Linked DNA regions of Homo sapiens: region 2 is linked to region 1. Evidence: fine-mapped expression QTL. A gene starts in region 1. The other region holds a variant in brackets. All regions are shown on one strand. Distances are from middle to middle.

Region 1 (2,920 bases):
AGAAAATTAATAGTCCATAACATTGTCTATATTGTGGTTGCATGGGAGCTTTTAAAGAATGAGGACCTAATCTATATATTCCCACTACTTAACTTGGTTCATAGCACTTATTTGGGTAATCAACAGATGTTCTACCAATTGTTCAGTTTAATACCCTCACAACAACTACTCTGAAAGTCATATGAATTTAACATTTAAAACAGCAACCTTTGATTTTAAAATTTTCTGCAAATCAGTTTAGTCATTTGCTTTAAATAAACCTGTGCTGCAGTAAGTACAGTATTCTGGGTTCTGCACTACTTAATTCTGCATCACAATGCTCCATAAAGACAGAGATCATGTCTAACTTTTGTCAGACATATAAGTAGGTACACCAAAATTTTTTAAATGAATGGATACTTTCAGACACTGAAAATGTTAGTGAAGAAATTGAAATCGAGGAAGAACAGGACAGGACAATAGAATACAGATTTTGAAGGCAGACAGATCTGGTTTTTAACACAGATTCAAACGTTTACTTATAACAAATGTTTAATAGAGCAAGTTGCTTGACTGTTCAAAGCCTCCATTTCTAACTCTGTAAAATGGTGATAATAATCTAACATACCTCCTGGAATTGTTGAGAGGAATAAATGACAAACTATGTAAAGCACTCGGCACACATAAGACTCAGTTAATGGCAACTATCGTTATTATTTTATCTATCTGAGACAAAAAAATTATCTATTTCATTTAAGAATTCTCAATAGCAAAACAAAATCCTGTCCCAGTGTAGAGCGAGGATTTTACGTGCTAAGGTCAGCTATGCTTCCCACTTCCACAGTTAAGCCTTCCAGCAAGACAACTACTAGCCAAAGGACACCAAGAGTCGCAATCTCCCAGGAAGTGGTCAAGAACCTCGTGAATGAGATCCAGGGATCATCACCCTGGCCCCTTCTTCTTCAAGGCGCAGAAGGCTGCAACGACCTCCAAATGACTAGGTGCGGCAGTGCCCTGCAGCCTCGGTCCCTACTATGAAAAGCTGCAACACATGAGGCTTTTGTTATTTTAAAGTGGGTGTGGGGTTGACAGAGAGAGGGATAAAGACTAAGGCAGAAAATTTTTTAAAAAGCCACCTCTACCCACAGCAGTCCCATAACTCGAGGCTAATCACTTCAGTGGAGCCAGGCACAGCGTGGGGTAGAAGCTCAGCGGTTCCCTTTTAGCTGATCTTCAATTTCTGGCGTCTCGAACCCAAGAAATGAAAAAGGGAAGCCATGGGGGAGCAGGAGGAGAAATCAAGGCGCGAAAGGACCCTCAAAGCTGTACTGTCACTCCACGCCCAGGCTGTCATTCTCTCCAGCACAAGCCCCTCGGTGGAGCATGTGTTTAGGGTCTGCAGAGCACAGGAGACAAAGCAGAAGCCCAGCAGCCGCCTCAACCCTGGCATGATCAGGTTCCGCATCTCCGGTTCTCCTCCGGTTTTGGGCCCTCACCTGCCACGAATGCGGTCGTCACGCGAGCAGTTGTGAGATGGTCAAGCCCATTCAGGTCTAGGTTACCCCCTTTCATCCCGGAGGCAGGGGTGAGGTGTTTGTCAAGAGACTTCAGTTGTAGGCGTGGACGTAGGCTACTTCCTTCAGTAACAGCTATAGGGCCACATAAGGGAACCTCAGGCTACTACACCTCAGGAATCTCCGTCACGCCTCTTCCCCGCCCTCCTCGGGTCTCACGCCGAAACCTCACCGGGCGGAACGATTTCCGGCAAGAGCCAAATGATCAGTCCTAACCTTTCTGACCGTGGTTCCAAGGTTCCCCAAAGGACTGCCCTCTAAAGGACCCGGGTAGTTCCGCTTCCGGCAGCGCGAGATAAATCACGAGAGGAAGCTTAAATCTGTCGTTTGAATTTAGGACCACCTCGGTGAGTGGTCGTTCTGGTGTGCTGTGTCATACCTACTGTTTTTTAAAGTGAGGCGTAACCCGACAGTAATTTCAAAACCATTCGCCTCGACCGGCCTAAGGAAGGGTTTAATTGAGTCTGTGGGGAGATTTTGCGCAAGCGCCTTTGAGATAGGAGGGCCTTGGGCGTTGCGATGTCCCGCGCTAGCTGAGCAGAAAGGGCGAGTGCTGTTTCGGGCCTGGGGAGGTGCCTACTGGGTGTAATTGAGTTTTACCAAACGGTCATTTTCCTGCTGATTCTGAGTGTGGTTGGACCTTGCCCTTAAGATTCCGTTAACGAGTCGCCCAAAGCTTAGGAAATGCTCCCTCACAGCGTTTGAGACTAAGCACTTTTGGCCGGCGTTGAAGAATTCTCCCCATTACTTTGATCAGTCATTTAATCAGAAATTTTGCCCCAAATTTAAATACGTGGCGGGGAGAAACGTGAGGTCAAGAGGGAATCCTGTCACGTAGTTTTAAAAGAAAAATGTCCACTTTATCTCAGTGTAGGTTTTTCTTAAATGGGCATTTCTGAACCAAAGTAGATACTTTTTAAAGTGGAAATGCATTTATCCCATGTGGCTTCATGTGAATGCATATGGCGATGAAGGCATTTTTTTGTTCAATGAATTTGTACTCTGAAGTGAACCAGATTACAGAGAAGTGTATTTAAATTTACAGGTCCTTGACGTTGCATAAAATTGTGCGTGTCCATTTTTTGGAGCTTAAAATAGAATAATTCAAATGTCAGAATTCCGATCCAAGTTAACATGTTGATTGAAAATTGCAGATTTTAAGATGGAACCAGCGGGTATTATAACCTTTTAGGGGCTTAAATTGGTGGCTTTGTTTTTAACCCTTGGTGAAACAGTTAAGTCCTAATCTTGACATAATACCTAACTGCCTTACTTTATTGAACACAAAATTATTAAAGGAATTAAGCAATGAGTTGATTTTATTTGCTTTTATGGAGGGGACAAAGTGTATAAAGCTTAACCAAATG
Region 2 (2,920 bases), 33 kb after region 1:
ATTTTATTTTTAATCTATACCATAATTCTCACTCCTTCTATCCCGTTGTCCGCATATATACATATCTACCAAAGACAGGTTGAGGGAACAGGAAAATGGCTGTTTTAAAATCCTTGACCTTTCCTGCATTGTTTATGTATGAACTGTCAAATTTATATGTCATTTTTTTATTCTTTGACATTCATATTTAGTAGACAGTATAACTCCCTAGAAGTTAATCTTGATAGTTAATTTTTATTACTTGGGATTTTGTTCCTCACTTAAAATTGTTTAATTAAAAAATATGTTTAATTATAATTCTAAAAGTCAAATGTATGATTTTTCTTTTTTCAGAAAGTCTTTATCTCTTGCAAGGTTCAGTAGTGGCAGATCATGACTACATTGGATTGCCTGAAATTCCGATTGGAGCATATCAAGCAAATATTCTGGTGGAAGATGCAACTATTGGTATAGTCGATAATGAATTACTGACATCAAGCAAGGATCGTGAACTATTAGAATATAGAAATACGAAAATCTCTCCATTGATAGACGATCATAGTTCTCTTGAAAAGCAGACTTTCAGTCTGTTGGACTCTTCAAACCAGGTTCTTGAATACTTAAGTTAGTAAATACCAAAATTTATTTAAATTGTTTGTTTAGAATATAAATTCTTAATGATATCTTATTCATTAAAAACGTTGTATAGAAGAAGTATCTTGACACATTCTTAATGACTATATTCTGAAGGTTTATTTTATAGTTCTTATCTAAAATTATGCCACATTTGAATATCAGTATACGTACATATGAAGGCAAAGGAAGCATGTAATATATAGAATTCACTTTTTCTTCTAAAAAGAGAACAGGCAAAGCACCCCTACTTCTTGGGAAATAAATTCCAGCCCAAATCTCTCAAACCTTTGTATGGTTTTGGCACCGTTTCTAAGTTTTAAATTTTCTGAAATTCTCTACCATTTAAACAGTAAGTTTGAACTACCTTGAATGGAATTGATAAATACTGAATCAACTGTAACAATGAATGAAATGAAGCTTCTTTCTGTTTCATTAGAACTTCTAAAAACAAGATTGTATGAAAAAATATAGGGTTATTTAATAGGCTTTCACAGAATATTGGTAATTTCAAATTATCTAATTGGTTAGATAGGGTCAGGATTAGGGTCTGAAACTATGTATTGGTTGGGAAACAATTTGTTTATTTTCATACTATATATTAAAGATAAAACCATCGACCAGGCATGGTGGCCCACACCTGTAATCCCAGCGCTTTGGGAAGCCAAGGCAGGATGATCACTTGACCCCAGGAGTTCGAGACCAGCCTGGGCAACACAGGGAGACCCTATCTCTACAGAAAAATGTTTAAAAATTAGCCAGGTGTGGTGGCACATGCCTGCGGTCCCAGCTACTCAGGAGGCTGAAGTAGGAGCATTGCTTGACCCCAGGAGGTCGAGGCTGCAGTGAGCCGCGCTCATGCCACAGCTCTCCAGCCTGGGCGACAGGGCAAGACCTGTCTCAACAACAACAACAAAAGTATCCGTTAAGAATTTTTTCTGCAATCATAAAATCATAAAATAACCAGTATCAAAGATTTTAAACTGTAATTTCTATGATATTCATAAATATA[A/G]AATAAATATTGTTCAATAAATATTTATTCTAAAGCACTATGAAAAGAACTGTGGGAAAAGTAAAAGATGAGTCAAACGTGTACCTCATTCTTATAAAGGACTTACTGTCTGGTAGGTAATAAACTATGTAAGCCATGTACAGCACAAGTTAAGGCATGCTAAATTGCAGAAGACAGGTGTAGATAATGTACTTAGGGAGGCAAAAAGAGAGAAGTTGTTTTTACATAGGAAATTTGTGTTTATCCTTATGGAAGAAGGATCATTTAAGCTTGACCTTGAAGAATGTATAGGATTTGGTAAATGGATACAAAAGAATTAGGGGAGAAGTAATACACAGAAATGGAAAAGTATTGTAATGATTCATAAAAAGGCAGGGCTTCTTGTTGTCTACACTGCCTCGGGTATAAAGTGAAGAAGCAAGATAATGAGGGATAAAGCTGAAAAGGTAAGTAGGAAACCTTATGGAGAGCTTTGAATACTATTAAGGATTGATATGTGCCCCTCCCAAAATTTGTGTTGAAGTCTTAACCCCCACCACCTCAAAATGTGACCTTATTTGGAAATGAGGTTGTTGCAAGTGTAATTAGTTGAGATCATATTTCAATAGGGTGGGCTCTAATACAGTATTACTGGTGTTCTGATAAAAGGGGAAAATTTGAACACAGACTCAAGGAGAATGCCATGTGAAGATAAAGGCAGAGTTTAAGATTATGTTTCTATATGCCAAGAAATGACAGAGATTGCCAGAAAACTACCAGAAGTTAGGGGAGAGGCATTGAATACATTTTTCCTCATTCCTCAGAAGACCAACCCTGTCAATACCTTATCTCAGACTTTTGCCTCCAGAACTGTGAGACAATAAAATTCTATTGTTTCAGCCATCCAGTTTGTGGGACTTTGTTACAGTAGCTCTAGCAATAATACAAATGCCTGGCTAAATTATTTCTTTTCTGAGAGCAAAAACTTTGTATAGGAAACTGTCATAATCAGAACTGTGTTTTTGGAAGTTTAATCTGGCAACTAGTAAAGAACAGATTAGAAGAGGAGAAAACAAGGCATGGAGATTAGTTGAGAGGACTTCGCAGTGATGACGAATACTAAAAACCTAAACTGGGCCTGTAGCATTGGTAATGAATGGAGTCTGTCTTAAGATCAGTACAGAATATCGCACATATTATATTTCACAACCATACTGAACAGTGATGTGATATCAAAGATGGAGACCTGGAGTATTCTGATTACTCATTTAAGAAGAAAGATTATGTTTAATATAGGCTAAAGGAAAAGTGTTTAGG

The links. PIP is the estimated chance that this variant, and not a neighbour inherited with it, causes the effect.
Region 2: its variant is fine-mapped to the expression of PPIP5K2 in whole blood (INTERVAL, PIP above 0.99).

The regions. Positions count from the first base shown.
Region 1 is chr5:103,119,044-103,121,963 of GRCh38, reverse strand. PPIP5K2 (diphosphoinositol pentakisphosphate kinase 2) reads right to left here and starts at 1,663. Exons shown (of 31, transcript NM_001276277.3): 1 at 1,476-1,663. It overlaps GIN1 (gypsy retrotransposon integrase 1), which reads left to right and starts at 1,826. Exons shown (of 8, transcript NM_017676.2): 1 at 1,826-1,900. RefSeq lists enhancers at 1,263-1,322, 1,373-1,562, 1,593-1,852, 1,688-2,188, 2,189-2,690.
Region 2 is chr5:103,085,586-103,088,505 of GRCh38, reverse strand. It overlaps GIN1 (gypsy retrotransposon integrase 1), which reads left to right. Exons shown (of 8, transcript NM_017676.2): 8 at 334-2,506. The coding sequence ends at 608. Among named protein-coding and RNA genes, the nearest start is that of GIN1, 33 kb to the left of the region's middle. The variant A/G (reference allele first, on the strand shown) is at 1,625.